Linked DNA regions of Homo sapiens: all the other regions are linked to region 1. Evidence: fine-mapped expression QTL. A gene starts in region 1. Each other region holds a variant in brackets. All regions are shown on one strand. Distances are from middle to middle.

What was found. PIP is the estimated chance that this variant, and not a neighbour inherited with it, causes the effect.
Region 2: its variant is fine-mapped to the expression of FUCA1 in whole blood (INTERVAL, PIP above 0.99).
Region 3: its variant is fine-mapped to the expression of FUCA1 in whole blood (TOPMed, PIP above 0.99).
Region 4: its variant is fine-mapped to the expression of FUCA1 in whole blood (TOPMed, PIP above 0.99).

Annotation. Positions count from the first base shown.
Region 1 is chr1:23,866,224-23,871,372 of GRCh38, forward strand. FUCA1 (alpha-L-fucosidase 1) reads right to left here and starts at 2,067. Exons shown (of 8, transcript NM_000147.5): 1 at 1,675-2,067. The coding sequence starts at 2,063. It overlaps CNR2 (cannabinoid receptor 2), which reads right to left. Exons shown (of 2, transcript NM_001841.3): 2 at 4,292-5,149. RefSeq lists an enhancer at 1-228 and a silencer at 1,479-1,698.
Region 2 is chr1:23,899,155-23,904,303 of GRCh38, forward strand. The region is part of intron 1 of CNR2 (cannabinoid receptor 2); the gene reads right to left. It also overlaps the pseudogene BTBD6P1. Among named protein-coding and RNA genes, the nearest start is that of CNR2, 12 kb to the right of the region's middle. The variant C/T (reference allele first, on the strand shown) is at 2,290.
Region 3 is chr1:23,829,771-23,834,919 of GRCh38, forward strand. The region is part of intron 1 of LOC105376861 (a long non-coding RNA gene); the gene reads right to left. Among named protein-coding and RNA genes, the nearest start is that of HMGCL, 6.9 kb to the left of the region's middle. The variant G/A (reference allele first, on the strand shown) is at 2,138.
Region 4 is chr1:23,842,398-23,847,546 of GRCh38, forward strand. It overlaps FUCA1 (alpha-L-fucosidase 1), which reads right to left. Exons shown (of 8, transcript NM_000147.5): 7 at 3,677-3,776; 8 at 2,680-3,458. The coding sequence ends at 3,318. Among named protein-coding and RNA genes, the nearest start is that of HMGCL, 20 kb to the left of the region's middle. The variant A/AC (reference allele first, on the strand shown) is at 2,603.

The DNA of each region.
Region 1 (5,149 bases):
ATCACTTGAGCCTGGGAGACAGAGGTTGCAGTGAGCCGAGATCATGCAACTGTACTCCAGCCTGGGCTACAGAGCAAAACTGTTTCAAAACAACAATAACAACAAAATAGAAAACTTTCTAGAAAACTAAGCTGTTTGGTTTACCAAGCCTACATAAATTGCCTCTCATTTATTATAGAGGTGACAAAAGACCCAATAACTGGGAGAAAAGGCAAGTGTTGAAATAACAACCAAATCACTCAATATTTAATTTGCTTTTATGGCACAAAAATAGGTAATGCACTTTATGGTTCAATCATTGGCCAGAGTAGGGAACTCCAGGATTTGAAGGGCCAGATAGTATTTTAGGCTCTGTGGGAGCACATTCCTCTCTGTAGTGTATTCTTCTTTAAAACATTTTACAACCCTTTAAAAATGTAAAAACCATTCTCACCTCATGGGCCTTAAAAAACTGGCAGAGGACCAATCCCTCTGGCCAGTTTGCAGACCCTGGTGCAGTGGAAACAACCTTGACGTCATGAGACCTGGAGTCTAGGACATTATATTCCTTCCTCTCTTTGGGCCAGTCATCTCATCCATGAAATAAAAGGCATGGAAAGAGGTTATCTCCCAGATTTTAATTTTTCTCACTTGTAAGTTATGGATCCCTAAGGCCCCTAGGAGACAAACACTTCCTCTGCTTAATCAAGTCTTATACTCCCATACATTTAATGGCAAACACTAAATGCCAGTTGTAACTTCTCTTTAGTACAAGTGAATTCAAAGTTCAAGAGAAACGAAAACCCGGAAGATGGCTGAGGAACCAAGGTAAGGATGGAAGACTGCTCTAAGCCAGGGGCTGGGGAAACCTCCCCGCCTCCATTTTTACTCTTCTCCAACCCACTTCTCTCCCAGCAGCCGAATGAATCTTTCTAGAAGCTGATAGTAACCACTCCCTGACTTAACATCTGTCAATACAGGGCTCTCAAGGCTCACTCCTTCAGGACAAGCCCCTGCCTTGACAACTTCATGGGTCGTGGTCTCCCCTTATCCCCACCCCAGCGCTCTCTACTCTGTTCTCTGAACCAGCCACCCCCAAGTTCCAACAGTTCTCAGAGAGAGTCAGACCCTTCCTGGACACTTCCTACGTAAAAGGGATTGAGAGGAGCAAACGAATGACTATCTGTACTGTTGCCCAAATACACTGCACACCAGAACTCCCCTCTCTTTCCCTCTTAGAGACATTAGGGCTCAAAGGGTTGTATCCTTATATAACCCCTTTCTACAACCATAGAAGAGGCTGCAGGGAGGCTGAAGTGACATGTCCAGGTTCACAGTTGAATTAGAACCAGGCTCCACACCACTGATTTGAAACCCTGGAGTCCTGATAGTGCTGTCAATCTGAAAGGGACATCAGGTATGGCCTAACTCAGCCCTCTCGGTGCACAGGTGCAGATACCCAGGGCTTCCCAGCCTGCCATCTCCCTGAACCTTCATTTATCAGTCCCCAGTCAAACGCACCTCCTCCTCCTCATCAGGTGTGCCAGGCTCACTCCTGTGGCCGCAGGAGGCCACACGCGGGCCCCGGGGTCATGGGGGCGACCGGCAGCTGCGCGCCCCAGCTGGCCGCCCAGCCCCACCTCCTGTTTGCCGCCCGAGCCGGGAAGGGGCGCCGCTCCCCGGGACCACACTCACTTGGCGCCCGCGGCCTGGAAGAGGTCGGCCCACTCCTCCGGGTGGAAGAAGCGCGCAGTGAACTGCGGTCCGAAGTCGGCGTAGCTGAAGCCGGGCGGGTAGTTGTCGCGCATGAAGCGCTGGTACTGCGGCCGCCCCTCGCCCTGCCAGTGCCACCAGAACCACTCGCTGCCCCAGGCGGGCACCGAGAACACGCCCCAGTGGATGAACACCCCGAACTTGGCTTCGTCGAACCAGGCCGGCAGCGGCCGAGAATCCAGGCTCGGCCAGTCTGGGGTGTAGCGGCGCGGAGGCTGGGCCCGACGCACCGACTCGGCCGCTCCGAGGAAGAGCAGCAGCAGCAACAGCGCGGGACCCGCCGGCCGCGACCTCATCCCCGGAGCCCGCATCGCTACCCCTCAGCGACGCGGCCCACTCTTAACGCGCAGGTGCCCGCGGGCGGCTCCGCCCACTCTGACTAACGATTGGCCCGGAAGGAAAAAGGGGTGGGACAACCTGGACAGGTTGGCCCGAGTCGCTTCCTCCTCGGGTCGGAGGAGCGCCCTCTGGTGCTCAAGAAGGGAAAGACGCAGGGAGGCGTTGACAGCGCTTCGCTGAAGGACGAATAAAAACCTTGAAAAGGGACTTAACTGCGAGGTTAAATCGTGGAGGTGAGCAAGGCCCAGTGTGTGCGGAGAACTCACATTTAAGAAGGAGTCCATTGAGCCGGACGCAGTGGCTCACGCCTGTAATCCTAACACTTTCGGAAGTCGAGGCGGGAGGATCGCTCTGAGCCCACAAGTTGGAGACTAGCCTGTCTCTATAAAAAATAAACAAAATGAGCCTGGCGTAGTGGTGCACGTCTGGAGTCCCAGCTACTCGAGAGGCTGAGGTGGGAGGTTCGGGATCGCTTGAGCCCGGGAAGTCTGGGCTGCAGTGAACCGAACCGTGATCACGCCTCTGGGAGTAGTCCATTTTGCCGCAGCAATCCTGCAGGGGTAGGCTGAAGTGAGATCACGAGTTTTATTTAGTGATCACTTGGGAGCCATAGGGGGCTTTTGAGTTGTCCTGTAGCACAAGGCTGGAGGAGGAGATAACAGACCGGAAGGGTATCTAACAGCCCTGACAGAAATAAGGAGGTAGAGGGATGATGGGAAGAAACGTTATGAAAGGAGAGGAAAGAGAAAACTGGGTACTGAAAGAGGGAGAGCGGGCAGGACCGTTTCATCTGTCTGGTATTTACTGAGCTTTCTTTGGGAATTCCGAGGCATTTCAAATAGCTTAGTTTGTACCGAGATACCGCCACTGCACTCCAGCCCCTGGGCGACAGAGCCAGACCAAGGAAGAAAGAAAGGAAGGAAGGAAGGAAGGAAGGAGGAAGGAAGGAAGGAAGGAGGAAGTGGAGAGCCAAGAGGACCCAGGATTGCCTGGCAGGGAAGTTCCCCAGTTCCTCTGCAATTTGCACATGCTGCACATACTCAAACGGGAGGTGAGGCCATTAGCGAGGGAAATACGGAAGTCAGAAGTCTCTGAACAGACAAGGTGGCTCACGCCTGTAATCCCAGCACTTTGGGAGGCCGAGGTGGGCAGATCACCTGAGGTCGGGAGTTTGAGACCAGCCTGGCCAACATGGTGAAACCCCATCTCTACTAAAAATACAAAAATTAGCCGGGCATGGGGTGCGCCTGTAATCCCAGCTACTCAGGAGGCTGAGGCAGGAGAATTGCTTGAACTCGGGAGGTGGAGGTTACAGTGAGCCGAGATCGCACCACTGCACTCCAGCCTGGGCGACAGAGTGAGACTCGGTCTCAAAAAAAAAAAAAAAAAAAAAGAAAAAGAAAAGGAAGAAGAAGTCTCATGACTCCACGTAGCACACTCAGTTCCCACATGCCAGTGAGAGAATGGCAGCACATCAGAGTTGGGACTTTGAAGATCCTAGGCACCATCCTCTTCCCTACCCTTCCCATTGTACCGAGGAGGGAACTGAAGCCCAGAGAGGGCTGGGGGGCTGCCCAAGATCATGCAGCTAGTTTGAGTCAGAGGTGGGACTAGAATACGTGTCTCCAGGTGCAAAATCTATGCCTTTGTTCATGCTGCTTCTTTCTTGCACCTCATGAGAAGTCAGAGCCTATGTTGACAGAACCCAGCACTTCCTCACTCTGGCAGTGACAAGGAGAGAAAATGACTATTGCTGAATCACAGCTGTTTTCTTTTCTTTTCTTTTCTTTTTTCTTTTCTTTTCTTTTGAGATGCAGTCTTGCTCTGTCGCCCAGGCTGGAATGCAGTGCTGCAATCTCAGCTCACTGCAACCTCCACCTCCTGGGTTCAAGCCATTCTCCTGCCTCAGCCTCCCGAGTAGCTGGGTTTACAGGTACGCCACCACGCCTGGCTAATTTTTGTATTTTTAATACAGATGGGGTTTCGCCGTGTTGGCCAGGCTGGTCTCGAACTCCTGACCTCAAGTGATCCGCCAGCCTCAGCCTTCCAAAGTGCTGGGATTACAGGCATGAGCCACTGCACCCGGCCTACAGCTATTTTCTTTATCTTCTGTTTCTTTTTCTGCCAGATTATGTTGAAATATTGCCCAAAACAGTAAGCATGAACACCTTAGGAAAAAAACCGAACCCATCCACACACATTTTCTAGTAATCGGTTTGCATAGTGGTCTTTAATGTTACAGAGCTTGTCTTGGGGAAGATAAAATGGGACATTGTGATCTTCAATTTATTTCTCCTTATCCACATAACCAAAATGTGAACCTGCAGGGACAGGTGAGAGGCACTGATGTAGAGTGGACAGAACTGGAAGTTAGGAAACCTAGGTTTGTTGCACTGGACACCATCTCGTTTGTCTCCCTGAGCAAGTCTTGTCCACTGTCTGGGCCCATTTCCTCAACCAAACAACAAGGGCAGTTCTCAGTGATATCTAGGTCCCTTTTGCACCCTTGTTCTCCTCCCTCATAAGCTCTGCTTCTCCACTTAAAGCAGACATAGGGGCTGGGAGTGGTGGCTCACACCTGTAATCCTAGCACTTTGGGAGGCTAAGGTGGGTGGATCACTTGAAGTCAGGAGTTCAAGACCAGCCTGGCCAATATGGTGAAATTCCATCTCTACTAACAATACAAAAATTAGCTGGGCATGGTGGCGGGTACCTGTAATCCCAGCTACATGGGAGGCTAAGGCAGGAGAACTGCTTGAACCCAGGAGGCAGAGGTTGCAGTGAGCCAAGATTGCATGCCACTGCACTCCAACCTGGGTGACAGAGTGAGATTCTATGTCAAAAAAAAAAAAAAAAAAAAAAAAAGCAGAAATACAGTGTGGTTCTAAAAGAAGAGAAGTAGAAAGTGTGGAGTTGCGTTTGATCAAATGATTTTTAGAATCTAGTTTTATTCATTCAAGAAGTATTTACTCAGTGCTTGTTTGTGCCAGGCACTTGGGCATTTTCTTTGCCAAAATGAGAAAGGATTCCACCGATGAATAAAGAAAGGCATGCTTCA
Region 2 (5,149 bases), 33 kb after region 1:
GATCTTATCTATGAGGAACCAGAGGCTCAGCTAGACTGGATTTGCCGAGGTCACAAAGTTTGTAAATGGCAGAGTCAGAATTCAGACTCATATATCTGGTGCCAGACCCTGACCACAGAAGTTGGGCAGCCTAGATGTGAAACCACCTTTGCAAAATTATGACTGAGACTGTGAAAGAGATCTAACTTAACTGACTCCATCTTGCTTCTAACCTCCAAGGTGTCCTTGTTCATTCCTGGGCTGAACTAACTTTGGGAGAAACTTAGTTTAAAACTAAGACAATAACAGCCCTTTCCCAAAGTACACCTCCTTCTTGGCTGGGGACTAGATTGCCTTTGTAGGACTAATATTAGGCACAAGATTAGAAATTATGGTTTAGGGTCTGGTGTGGTAGTTCACGCCTGTAATCCCAGCACTTTGGGAGGCTGAGGCGGGTGGATCACTTGCGGTCAGGAGGTAAGACCAGCCTGGCCAACATGCTGAAACTCCGCCTCCACTAAAAATACAAAAGTTAGCCAGGTGTGGTGGTGCATGCTGTAATACCAGCTACTCGAGAGGGGGAGGCAGAAGAATCACTTGAACCTGGAAGGTGGAGGGTGCAGTGAGCTGAGATTGCGTCACTGCACTCCAGCCTGGGCGACAGAGGGGTCTCTGTCAGAAAGAAAGAAAGAAAAGAAAAAAAAGAAAGAAAAGAAAGAAAGAGGGAAGGAAGGAAAGAGAGAGAGAGAAAGAAAGAAAGAGAAAGAAAGAAAGAGAAAGAAAGAAAGAGAAAGAAAGAGAAAGAAAGGAAAGAGAAAGAAAGGAAAGAAAGAAAGAAAGGAAAGAAAGAAAGAAAAGAAAGAAAGAAAGGAAGGAAGGTTTAGGAGTCATGCAGCTGGAGGCTACAAGATTCTGACCCTCCCTAAACTGCTCCTGCGATCAGTGCTTGAGATACTTTGCAGACCCTGCACTTGATGGATCAGCTGGCACCACCCAAATCCATAAACTGGCTCATGTGATCTTGTGGCCCCCACCCAGGAACTGACTCAGCGCAAGAGGACAGCTTCGACCCCCTGTGATTTCATCCCTGGCCAATCAGCACTCCTGGCTCACTGGCTCCCCGCAACCAAACAAACTGTCCTTAAAAACTCTGATCCTTGAATGCTGGTGGAGACTGATTTGAGTAATAATAAAATTCCGGTCTCCCGCACAGCCAGCTCTGCATAAATTACTCTTTCTCTATTGCAATTCTCCTGTCTTGATGAATCGGCTCTGTCTAGGCGGCAGGCAAGGTGAACCCCTAGAGGCTTATAGACGGAGGGGCATGGGGTCTCTCTTATACTTCTGGGCAACCATCTCTTCCCTGATCTCTTTTTTTTTTTTTTTTTTTTTGAGACAGTTTCACTCTTGTTGCCCAGGCTAGGGTGCAATGGTGCAATCTCGGCTCACTGAAACCTCCGCCTCCCAGGTTCAAGCAATTCTCTTGCCTCAGCCTCCCAAGTAGCTGGGATTACAGGCATGTGCCACCACGCCTGGCCAAGTTTGTATTTTTAGTAGAAATGGGGTTTCTCCATGTTGATCAGGCTGGTCTTGAACTCCCAACCTCAGGTGAACCGCCCGCCTTGGCCTCCCAAAGTGCTGAGATTACAGGCATGTGCCACCGTGCCTGGCCTCCCTAATCTCATTTTTATCCTTCCCACCTTGGACCATTTTACCGAGCCACGTTTCCAGCTACCAACCAAATTGTCCTTAAAATCTCTGATCCTCGAATGCTGGGGGAGACTGATTTGAGTAATAGGACACTAGAATGGTCGCTCCAAGGGAGTTAAGGCTTATTATTTGTTTTGTTCACTCCCGTATCTTAAGTGCACCTGCCTCACCCATGGTCACTGCTCAGTAACTCTTTCTTTTTTTAATTGTAGGCAACCTTTATTACAGAAGTCCCTTATTTTAAGTGACTTTTTGCCGATTTTAGATTTGAAGGGAAGGTCTACAGTTAAGCTTGGAACCACTTAGTATCCAAGAGGGTGGCAGGAACATGCAACCCCTCAAAGCAGGTGGCATGGGTGCCATTGGGAGGGGATCTGGGGCCTGTCTTGTGCCCTAAATCTTCCTCCACCTGAGACGTGCACCCCAGTGTACCAGAGATGCCTAAGACTCCAATCCCCCAGCTCTGGCTGTGTGGAAAAGGTGCCTACTTCACAGAATCAAGCTTCAGTTGACTACATGCCAAAGAGAGACAAGGTTAAGTGTGGCCTTTCATGGTGTCAAGAAGCAGTTAGTGTCCTGATTTCCCCTCCATCCACTCGC[C/T]GACCTGCTGCAGCCTCCCCGGGCACCTCAGGCATAGAAGATGAGCTCAGGGATCTGCCCACCCTGGACCCCAGTCCCGTTGGTGCTGTCCGAGGAGCACTGGAACTGGAAGGCCACCTTTCTGCACTGCACTTGCGTCATCCCCTCCTGCCCAAAGTAGCTGAGGTTGCTGCCGTCCAGAACAGCACTGGCCATGTAGAAGGTGTCTTGTTCAACCTGGACCGGGTGTTCAAACCAGACCGGGAAGGTGTTACTGGATCTGTCCGACATGAATTTGGTCAGATTCTGAGCCAGAACTACCCCAAGCCTCTTGAGCTCAATCTTCACGCTGTACTCAGCCTTCCCAGAGCTGGACCCACACAGGCCTAGCCCCGCAATAAATACCCTTCTGTCCACTGCAAACTGGATGCTGTCGCAGCGCCCGCAGTACTGGCATTGGTTGCTGCGGTAGGCAGAAGACTGGAATAGGTGGCACCTCTGCGGGGTGAGGCCCTTCCTCTTGATCAGGGGGAAGTCCAGGCGGGGCTTGTTGGTGGCCGTGTACCACAGGAAGATGGTGTGGGTCTCCTCCAGAGTCAGGATGTCTGGATGTCTGACTGGGCAGCGCCGTTGGCAAACTCCTCTAGGGTCATGGTTGGAATTCGGATCAGATAGAGGGCTCGCCCCAAAACATGCCTCTTGTTTCGTGGGGTGACTGGCAGCCCCTGCCTCTTGCACTCTGCCTTGGCCCAGTTCAGGACGGCCTTGAAGACCACCGCCTCCTGGTGTTGAGGGCCTCCCGAGTGACAATGATCTCCAACGTCTGCCGGTCCATCTCACAGAAGCCTTGGGACCGCAGGGCCATCTCGGCCTGTGCGTCGATGACCTCCCAGCAGCGCTGGGTCAGGTCGGGCTCCTCAAACAGCCGGCTCTGGGACAGCAGGACGCAGGCGTTCTTGGCTTTCAGACTTGTCCCCAGAAAGTTGACGCAGGCTTTTGCCAATGCTGGGACGATGTACTTCTTAGCAGCCTACAGAGTGGCCAGCACCGTATCCGCTTCCAGATCGATCTCATCACTGTACACGTACTTTAATAGGATCAGAAAGGCTGCGGGCTCCACGTCTGGAATGTGAATTTCAGATTTGACTTCCGCCAGGTCCCAGTAGAACATGGCATAGAAGACGGAGCTGCAGACAGCCAGGACGTACTTGTGGGCGGGCACCGTCCTGGTCGCCCCCGGGGGTCCCACGACAAAGTGCACGTCGGCCACGAGCTCGTTGTTGAACATGAGCGCGTTCCTCTCGCGCAGCGTGGGGGACCGCGCCATTTGGGGCTCTCCGGGTGGTTGTTGCCAAGTGTGGGCTGCGCGGGCGCGGGCGCGGGGGCGCGGTGCAGGCTGCGCTGCCCGGCCTTCCTGCCCACGGCGGCGCCGGCGTTGCTGTGGGCTAGGACCGCGGCCGCGGCGCTGGCGGGGACGTAGAGCTCCGCCGCCATCCTCGAGGGCGGGGCGTCGGGGGCAGCCTCGGAGCCTGTGGACCCCCGCCCCGCGCCCTCGCGCCGCGCCGGGGCCTCGGGAGCGGCTCTGCAAGCAAAAGCAGGGAGGTCGGGCGCTGAGCGACGCGGCGGTGATGGCAGGCCAGGGGCAGCACCATTCATGGGCGGCGGCGGCGGCGGCGCTGCGACCCGCGGGGCTGCCACCCGTGCCCCTACCACCCCCGCCCCTGCGATCCTGCCAGAGCCTAGCCTAGCGCAGCCGGGCCAGGCCTGGCCGCAGCAATAACTGCTTTTTAATGGATTGGTTGGAGGTATTCTCTCTGACACATGCCAGCATCCTCAAGGAGGGTAACCTGCTTTCTAATTTTCAAAGTGAGGCCGGGTGCAGTGATTCACACCTGTAATCCCAGCAATTTGGGAGGCTGAGGTGGGAGGAGCGGTTGGGCCCAGGAGTTCAAGACAAGCCTGGGCAACATAGGAAGACCCCGCCTCTACAAATAAAAAAAAATTAGCCAGGGGTAGTGGTTCATGCCTGTGGTCCCAGGCACTTGGGAGGCTGAGGTGGGAGGACCACTTGAGCCCAGGTGGTTGAAGCTACAGCTAGCCGTGATGTGCCACTGCACTCCAGCCTGGGTGACAGAGTGAGACCCCAGGCTTTGTCAAAAAAAAAAAAAAAAGCATTTCTTTTTAACGTGCGTCAGTAAGAAGGGCATGCCTAGGTTAACATATCAAAAGTGCTCCTCATAGTATCTGTGAAACAGCCTTGCAGAACCTAACCTGCCAGGCCATAAATGCAAGGGTGAAAATGGGATTGTGGGGAGCTTCACTTTAACAATAGCTAGTTGTGTAAAATGCAATTAATCCTCACAGTAAGTCAGGAAGGGTGGTCCTATTATCATCATCTCTGTTTTGCAGACAAGGAGACGGAGGCGCAAAGATGCAGTGACTTGTCTGAGGTTGCACAAAAGGGCAGAGCCCGATGTGAACCCAAACCTGTGCCCAGGTCTGCAACTGTCACAGGAGCCTGCCTCCTAGTTGCTCAGCTGGCTCCTGCGGCTTTCTCCCGGGGACTTCTCTCTAATCTTTCTGGGGGGCCCTTTGAAATGTTAAAAAATTGCATTTGGGCTCCCGATTTTCTGCTTTACCAGATTCCAGAGTTCACACTGCCTGAAGACAGGAATCTTAGCTTTGCCCCACTAGGGAGCTCCTTTGTGATCCAGGTGATGTCACTCAGAACTCTGGTTTTTTTGTTCGTTTCATTGTTTTTTTTTTTTTTTTTGGAGTCTCGCTCTGTCACCCAGGCTGGAGTGCAGTGGTGCGATCTCGGCTCACTACAACCTCTGCTTCCCGGGTTCAAGTGATTCTTCCGGCTCAGCCTCCCGAGTAG
Region 3 (5,149 bases), 36 kb before region 1:
GTGTGAGCCACCGCGCCCAGCCTAATTTTTTTTTTTTTTTTGAGACAGGGTCTTACTGTGTCACCTAGGCTGGAGTGCAGTGGTGCAATCACAGCTCACTGCAGCCTCCACCTCCCTGGGCTCAGGTGACCCTCCCACCTCAGCCTCCTGAGTAGCTTTTATGTATATATAAATTTACATATATAATTTTAAATATATTAATATATAATATATACTTATAAATTATTATATAACAAATTATATAATAAATATATTATATTTTATTTTATTTATAATTATATATTTTTATATAGTATATTTATATATAATATACTTATTATATATGCATATGTGTGTGTGTGTGTATATATATATATATATATATATATATATATATATATATATAAAAACTCTCCTATTGGTTCTGTTTCTCTGGAGAACCCTGTCTAACACAATGAGCAATAATGTTGCTCATAGTAACATTATCTGTGATGGCCAAAAGGCGTACAGAACGCACATGTGCATTAACAGATAAATGGATGAACAAAATGTGCTATATTGTATACCTACAATAGTTACTCATTCTTGAAAAGATATACAATTCTGACACATGTTGCAACATGGATAAACCTTAAAAATATTCTGCTAAGCCAGACACAAAAGGGCAAATTTCATGATTCCACTTATGTGGGTGTGATGGTTAATTTTATGTGTCAACTTGACTAGGCCACAGGGTATCCAAATATTTGACTACACATTATTTCCGGGTGTGTCTGTGAGGGCATTTCTGAATGAGGTTAGCATTTGAATCAGTAAAGGGAGTAAAGCAGATTACTCCCTCAATGTGGGGGGCATCATCCAATTCTTCGAAGGCCTGAATAGAACAAAAAGGTGGGGAAGGAAGAATTCTCTCTTCTACATTCAGACTGGGACTTACACTACACCATTGGTTCCTCTCATTCTCAGGCCCCTGGGCTTCAACTGGAGCTACACCTCACTGGCTTTTTTTGGTCTCCAGCTTGCTGACAGCAGATCATATTTCATACATATACATATCTTTTTTTTTTTTTTTTTTAAGATAGAGTTTTGCTCTTGTTGCCCAGGCTGGAGTGCAGTGGCGCGATCTTGGCTCACTGCAACCTCCACGGGTCAAGCGATTCTCCCGCCTCAGCCTACCGAGTAGCTGGGACTACAGGCACCCAACAACACGCCTGGCTAATTTTTGCATTTTTTTTTAATAGAGACGGGGTTTCACCATGTTGGCCAGGCTGGTCTTGAACTCCTAACCTCAGGTGCTCCAGCAGCCTCCAAAAGTGTTGGGATTACAGGCGTGAGCCACTGGGTCCGGCCTATATATCATCTTTTATTGGTTTTGTTTCTCTGGAGAATCCTAACTATTACAATGAGGACTTTATTATAGTCAAATTCATAGAGAAAGAAAGTTGAATAGTAGTTATTGGGGGCTGGGAGTGGAAAGAAATTGGGAGTTATTGTTTAATGGGTACAGAATTTCAGTTTGGGATATGAAGGAGTTCTGGATAGTGGAGATGGTTGTATAACAATGTGAATGTACTTAATGGCACTGAATTAAAATGGTAAACTTTATGCTATATATATTTTAAACAATAAAAAAAAATAAGTAACTGCACAAGAAAAAAAGACTTAGGCAAGGCATACCCTTGCCAGCTCCCCAGTCCCTACTACTCCTAATTGTCACAGACACGAGGCTTCTCTCCTTCCTCTGTTTGCCCCCCTAAAAGCCCTTGTTGGCAAATTCTCAAAAGTAAATAACTTACAAGCACAGCTCTGAGGCAAATGTCTAAACTAAAGGGCAGAGACTTTAACTGGTTGTTGAATGTGGTGTCTCCAATACCAGGCACATTTGGTGGCATGAAGTAAATACTGAAAGAGTAACACTAGCAACTGTTACAGACTTTGCTCAGGGTCACCCTTAGTTGGAATCTTATTTTAACCAAGATGTTTCCTTTTTTGCATTGTAACCCACCCTCAATTACAAAGCTTACAATAATTATTAACAATAGCCCCTACCATTTATTAAGTATATTTTCTGTATTGGTTGTGATATATAGTAACTTTTCATGAGTAATCAGACTCTGCAACATAAATGTTACTCTTTCCATCTGAGAAATGAGGAAAC[G/A]GAGGCTTAAGAGACATTAAATAACTTTTCTAAGATCATGTATGGTAGGTAAGTTCAGACCCAAATCTGACTCTAGAGAATGCTTTCTTTGCTACATGATAACACTATTCCCTCTTTCCTCTTCCTTTCTCTCCAAATTACTAAAAGAGATGGCTGCTGTGATTAAGGCACAAGTTGGTGCTAGGTGCTAAGACCGCAGTAGTAAATAAGATTCACCACAATTCTGTGCACCTTTCTCAGACCTTCAGATTTTATGGTAATAGTTTTTTTTCCCAGGACTTTTTTTTTTCTTTTTAATTTTTTTTTTTTTAATGAGACGGAGTCTTGCTCTGTCGCCAGGCAGGAATGCAGTGGCGTGATCTTGGCTCACTGCAACCACCACCTCCTGGGTTCAAGAAATTCTCCTGTCTCAGCCTCCCCAATAGCTGGGACTACAGGTGCCCACCACCACACCTGGCTAATTTTTGTAGAGACGGGGTTTCACCATATTGGTCAGGCTGGTGGTCTCAAACTCCTGACCTCAGGTGATCCACCCGCCTCGGCCTCCCAAAGTGCTGAAATTACAGGCATGAGCCACCACGCCTGGCCTCAGATTGCATTTCTAATGCACAACAGCAAATTTCTGTTTATAGCTTTTCCTTAAAAGCAGATGACATCTCTTCTGCAAGTGGGAATAATAATGTTTAAATCCAACATCTGCCTTTCTGCAAATCCTGTGAGAGCAATAGCAGACTTTTTACAGTAGTGGAACTTAGTCAGTGTCAACTTTTATGAATGTTTATGATATTCTGGTCCATAAAGCAAATTTCAAAAAATTGGTGACATGTATATCCTATTAATTAACCATAATTAATGACAAATGGATAAGTGTGTGTGTGTGTGTGTGTGTGTGTGTGTGTGTGTGTGTGTTTGAGACAGGGTCTTTCTCTGTCACCCAGGCTGGAGTGCAGTGGCACAATCATAGCTCACTGCAGCCTTGAGCCTTTGGGTTCAAGTGATCCTCCCACCTCAGCCTCTCAAGTAGCTGGGATGACAGGCACATGCCACCATACCCAGCTAAATTTTTTGTTTTGTATTTTTTGTAGAGATGAGGGTCTTACTATGTTGCCAAGGCTGGTCTTGAACTCCTGGGCTCAAGTGATCCTCTCACCTTGGCATCCCAAAATGCTGGGATTGCAGGCATGAGCCACCATACCCAACTGGATAACTCATTTTAAGAAGAGATGAGATTATGTTGAAAATGAAGCCCACAGCAGCAGGTCATACACATCAATTTTTGGGGAATAAACTCATCTTGTTTGTGCCTTAATTGAAGAGGACCGACAATTAACAGCACAAACAGTAGCCAACACCATAGACATCTCAATTGGTTCAGTTTACACAATTCTGATGGAAAACTCAAGTTAGAGCAATTAAGTTAGACATAACTTTATGCTTGGAAAGTATGGGGAAAAAAACCCTAACTCATGGGTCAAAGAAAAAATCAAAATAGAAATTATAGGCCAGGCACAGTGGCTCACACCTGTAATCTCAGCACTTTGGGAGGCTGAGGCAGGTGGATCTCCTGAAGTCAGGAGTTTGAGACCAGCCTGGCCAACATGGTGAAACCCTGTCTCTACTAAAAATACAAAAAATTGGCTGGGCGTGGTGGCAGGTGCCTGTAATCCCAGCTACTTGGGAGGCTGAGGCAGGAGAATAGCTTCAACCTGGGAGGCAGAGGTTGCAGTGAGCCAAGATTGTGCCATTGCACTCCAGCCTGGGCAAGAAGAGCAAGACTCGGTCTAAAAAAAAAAAAAAGAAAAGAAAAGAAAGAAATTATAATAGGCCGGGTGTGGCGGCTCCTGCCTGTAATCCCAGCACTTTGGGAGGCTGAGAAGGGTGGATCACTTGAGGTCAGGAATTCAAGACCAGCCTGACCAACATGCAAAACCCTGTCTCTATTAAAAATACAAAAATTAGTTGGGCATGGTGGCTGATGTCCATAATCCCAGCTACTACAGAGGCTGAGGCAGGAGAATTAATTGAACCCAGGAGGCGGAGGTTGCGGTGAGCCGAGATCACACCACTGCACTCCAGCCTGGGTGACAGAGCAAGAGTCCATCTCCAAAGGAAAAAAAAAAAAAAAAGAAATTACAATATACTTAGAATTAAATGATAATGGAAATATATTAAAAGACAAATGCTTGTATTGGAAAAGGTAGTTGAAGAGTAGTGAATGAAGTTTCTAACTCAAGATGTGAGGCCAGATGCAGTGGCTCATGCCTGTAATCCCAGCATTTTAGGAGGCCGAGGCAGACAGATCACCTGAGGTCAGGAGTTTGAGACTGGCCTGGCCAACATGGTGAAACCCTATCTCTACTAAAAATACAAAAATTAACCGGGCATGTTGGCACACGCCTGTAGTCACAGCTACTCGGGAGTCTGAGGCAGGAGAATCGTTTGAACCTGGGAGGCAGAGGTTGCAGTGAGCCGAGATCATGCTGCTACACTCCAGCCTGGGTGACAGAGCAAGACTCCATCTCAAAAATAAATAAATAAATAAAAAGAAAAGAAAAGAAAAAGGTGTGAGAAAAACAACAGACAAAAAGTAAGTAAAATAAAAGACAAAATAAAAGACAGAAATTTGTTTGTTTTTTGAGACAGCATCTTGCTCTGTTGCCCAGAGTAAAATGTGGTGGTCTGATCACAGCTCACTGAAGCCTCAACCTCATGGGCTCAAGTGATCCTCCTGTCTCAACCTCTCGAGTAGCTGGGACTACAGGCATACACCATCATACCCAGCTAATTTTTGTATTTTTTGTGGAGGGGGTTTCGCCATGAACTCCTGGGCTCAAGCGATTTGCCTGCCTCAACTTCCTGAAGTGCTGGGTTTCAGGCATGAACCACTGCACCTGGCCTGAAAAGGTAGAAATTTGAATAAAATAAGAAAATATTACAACAAAGAGGATCATCCAACAACAACAACAACAAAAAAGAAACTTGGTTCTTTGAGTCTAATAAAATTGACAAGCT
Region 4 (5,149 bases), 24 kb before region 1:
CTGTCTTGTCTAAAAACACAAAAAAATTAGCCGGGTGTGGTGGTGGGTGCCTGTAATCCCAGCCACTCGGGAGGCTGAGGCAGGAAAATCACTTGAACCCAGGAGGCAGAGGCTGCAGTGAGCCAAGATCAAACCATTGCAATCCAGCCTGGGCAACAAGAGTGAAACTCCATCTCAAAAAAAAAAAATGACATTGGATACAATATTGAATTATTGTTGGGGACACATTGGGGGCTTGATTTTGAAAGGAGTTGGGCTGTCAGTTTTCTTAGCTGCCATCATTGAATAATGCCCAAGAGCACGGGTACACTTGAAACATTGGACGTATTGAAGACATAGTGTTGGGGCCATACTTTGGAATTAAATTTTTGAGGACTTGGTTCTTCTACTCCTCTTGATAAAAATGATCCTGGATTCATGCCGTAAACCACTCCAGACATTTGGTGTCTTCTAGAAGATTTAAGAGCTGAGAACATTTTGGCCAGGCGCAGTGGCTCACACCTGTAATCCTAGCACTTTGGGAGGCTGAGGCGGGCAGATCACTTGAGGTCAGGAGTTCGAGATCAGCCTGGCAACGTGGTGAAACCCCGTCTCTACTAAAAATACACGTGCCTGTAATCCCAGCTACTCGGGAGGCTGTGGCAGGTGAATCCCTTGAACCTGGGAGGTGGAGGTTGCAGTAAGTCAAGATCATGCCACTGCATGACTCTGTCTTAAAAAAAAAATCTGAGAACATTTCTAGGGCTGGAATTTTGCGATTTTGCCACCAGGAGTTGGAATTTTTCATGGATTCACCCAACAGGATTTGCTCAACACATTCTACAAAGTCAGCAAGGCTGGGTCAAGAAAACTCCAAAAGGTCTGAGAGAGGCTGCCTGGCACCATCTTGTCACCCTTGCATCCCCTTCCTTTGGGAAATGGAAGCTGGAAACTTGGGGCCATTGGAGCTGCAATGGTTTGGTGCTTCTTGCACAACTCTTGCTAATTTCATTTTAGTTACTTATATCTTTGGTTATGATAAATGGAATATTTTCATTGTATTCTAGTTTCTGGACTGTAGAAATGTAATTGATTTTTGTCTCTGATCCAACAACTTATTAATTCTAATAATTCATTTGTATATTATTTGAGGTTTTCTATGTGGACAGTTTCATCACCTGAGAACAATGACAGTTTGGTTTAATCCTTGCTGCTCCTTACATCCCTTTACTTCCTTTGCTTTTTAAATTTTATTATTTAGAGACGGGGTTTTGATCTGTCACCCAGGCTGGAGTCTAGTGGTGTGATCCATCTCAGCTCACTGCAGCCTCGACCTCCCAGGCTCAAGCAATCCTCCCACCTAAGCCTTCCAAATAGCTGAGACTACAGGTGTGCACCACCACGCCTGGTTACTTTTTGTATTTTCTGTAGAGATGGGGTCTTGCTATGTTGCCCAGGCTGGTCTGGAACTCCTGGACTCAAGAAATCCACCCGCCTCTCCTTCCCAAAGTGTTAGGATTACAGGCGTGAGCCACTGTACCTGGCCTTCATTACTTCTTTCCAGCCTTCTTTTTAACATAAACATTTAACGCTATATTTTCCTGAAGTACTTTTATTTTTAAAGCTACATCTTATAAGGTTCAATATATAGTGTTACTATCATTCCAAGTATTTTCTTTTCTTTTTTTTTTAGAAGTGTGCATGAAGTTGCTTTAAGACTGTGAAGAACCATATAAGCAATATTATTATCATCAGCTTGCTCTCTAATTCTGGGCAGAAAGTGATCTAATTAAAATTGGCTGTGCTAATCTACTTACACTAATGTGTTACTTTTTTCTTTCACAACCAGGCTTCATTTGCCTCACAAGAACTACATATTTGGAATTCTTTATATCTCATGGCACAATCCATAAATTTATGAATCAGTAACATAATGAGTTAGTGTATTTTAACTTTTACAAACACAGTTTTTTCTTCTCCAAGTTTTTGTTATTGTTCTTTAATTATATTGTAGACACTAAATAGCTTATATGATGTTGCTTCTTTGGTATTTGAGATTTGCAAATGTTCCATATGTGCTTGAGAAAAACACATATTCCTTAAATGTTGGATAAAGATTTCTAAATATATCTACTTGGCTGGGTGTGGTGGCTCACACCTGTAATCCCAGCACTCTGGAAGGCTGTGAGGTAGGTGGATCACTTGAGCCCAGGAGTTCGAGACTAGCCTGGGCAACATGGTGAAACCCCGTCTCTACAAAAAAAAAAAAAAAAAAAAAATTAGCTGGGCATCGTGGTGTGCCTATAGTCCCAGCTACTTGGGAGGCTGAGGAGGAAGGATCACTTGAACCTGGGAGGTGAAGGTTGCAGTGAGCCGAGATCACACCACTGTACTCCAGCCTGGGCAACAGAGCAAGACTCTGCCTCAAAACAAAACAAAACAAGATTTCTAAACATATCTATTAAGGAAAAATTAAATAGAAAACTTGATTAGATCTCTAACAAAGAGGCTGAACTGGTAGTCAATTCAGAAGAATGGTATTAGAAGTGAGAAGCAGAAAAAACACAGGAATTACATTTTTTGTTCAGTGTTAAGGAGATTTTGCAAATCTCCTTAAAAAAAA[A/AC]ACACACACAAACCAGAAACTGATCTTAAAGCTATAAGCAGTATAAGTTGAAACTAGGAAAAGAAAGCTATACCATGTTTTTTTGGTAGAAATGATTGTGATGTACAAATTTTTTATTTGATCATACTTAAAAAGACAGAGCAGAATCACATTCATTTTCTTAATAGTATCACTGTAAACATAGCGAATTTTGGCGCTTTTAGATTGCTCTGAAAATTTCTGAAGAGTTGACCATAGCAGCCTGGTAAGCCTTTTCCTTTCCCCCAAAGCTCTCCTGCCCTTTGCAGAAAGACTGTTGGTGACAACTGATGCTAACTAAATAGCATGTGGTTGAGCTTGCCAAATCCTTCCACCTCCTCCCATAGGCAACAGGGTGACTTGGCTTAAAGGCATTGAGTAAGCAAGTAGGTTATCAGAGAACAGAGGGAAGATTCCATTGTAGATAATTTCCAAATATTACAATTGATGAACTCAGAGTTCAACTGCTCAGTTCCTTCTTCTGCTGACCTGATACAGATATAATCACAATGGATCTCAGATCTTTGGTCCATTTAGACATCAGGGTAATGTACTCAGTTCCTTTAATTAAAATGTGTTGGAAAAGCCATCTCTGGGTGGAGAAGAGAAGTTCGTTGATTATAGTGATGGTACTATAAGAGAAAAACTGAAGCAGGAAAACAGTGAGCAGCGCCTCTTTCTTCTTGCACTCAAATGATTACTTCACTCCTGTCAGCTTTATAGTCCAAGCAAACTCTGCGGGGACAGCAGAGGGTGGCAACTGGGGTAGAGAGATGAAGAGACCTTTATCTGGATCTGTGGACCACTTCAGATCTCCTTGAATTCCCAGCATTGTTATCTGCAGAAAACAAAAGGGAATGAAACAAACTGGTAATGCACTAATGAGTATAGAATACAGGCTGACTATGGTAGGAAACAGCCACGCTGGGCCAGGGCAGGAAAGCCAGTCTAAAAGAGGTGTGAATATGGGAGAAACCTGGCAGGGAAGGAAGAAAGGAAGGATCTGCCAATTCCTTTACAGAAAGTTACATCTTAAGACTGACTAAGCCTCTTTACCTTTGTAGTTGAGGTAGTTATGGGGGATTCAAGGTTTAAGACTCCATTTTCTGGCCAGTGCAGAAAAATGGCATAAACAGCCGATCCCTTTGAGGTATACCTGGGAAAACAGAAACAACACTGTCAAAGATACCTGACTTGTTATCCTGATATACAACTTTATACATTTCCTCCTTTTTAATGTTAATTTTCTTTTCTTTTCTTTTTTTTTTTTTTGAGACAGAGTCTCCCTCTGTTGCCCAGGCTGGAGTGCAATGGTGTGATGTTGGCTCACTGTAACCTCCGCCTCCTGGGTTCAAGCAATTCTTGTGGTTCAGCCTCCTGAGTCACTGGATTACAGGTGTGCACCACCACGCCTGGCTAACTTTTGTATTTTTAGTAGAGATGGCATTTTGCTATGTTGACCAGGCTGGTCTTGAACTCCTGGCCTCAAGTGATCCACCTGCATTGGCCTCCCAAAGTGCTGGGATTACAAGTATGAGCCATTGCACTCAGCTCCTTATTTATTTTTTTTTTGAGACGAAGCCTTGTTGTCCAGGCTCTTGTTGTCCAGGATGGAGTGCAGTGGCGTGATCTTGGCTCACTACAACCTCCACTTCCCAGGTTCAAGCAATTCTCCTGCCTCAGGCTCCTGAGTAACTGGGATTACAGGTGCCTGCCACCATACCCTGCTAATTTTTGTATTTTTAGTAAAGACGGGGTTTCGCCATGTTGGCCAGACTGGTCTTGAACTCCTGACCTCAGGTGATCCACCCGCCTCGGCCTCCCAAAGTGTTCGGATTACAGGCGTGAGTCACTGTTTTGGGCCTAATTTCTTTTTTTTTAAGTGATGGAGTCTTGCTGTGTTGCCCAACACAACTTGCTGTGTTGTGCTGGGCTCAAGTGATCCTCCCACCTTGGCCTTAGAAAGTGCTGGGATTACAGGCATGAAGCACTGCACAAGGCCACTCATTCCCCTTTCAATTATCTACCAAATCCCAGTCCTCGAGTCTGTCACTGTTACTAGGGAGCACCAATAACTCAATACCAATGAAGGTGTGCAGGAAGGAGGCAGTCTATAAAACTCTATCTGGTGATACTATCTATTTTCCCTACCAATTGGGTTAAGTTGTCTTTAAAAATTATCTCCTACATCAGTTACTGCAAATAAATAGAGCCATTTACCTTATTATTCAAATCTCTTTTCTATTCCAAATCCATGTGAAAATAGCAGAGACTATAACAAGGACAAGACATGCAATGAAAACAAATTTGTTGTTCAGAGATTTCTTTTTTTTTTTTTCTGAGACTGCACCCAGCCTGTTCTGAAATTTCACTATGTTTAGAGAAGAGGATGAAAATCACTACTATGGTTTGAATGCATCTCCCAAATCTCATGATGGAAACTTAATCCCCAAATTCATATGTCGATGGTATAGTATTTAGAGGTGAGGCCTTTGGGAAGTAATTAGGATCATATAAGGTAATCAGGGC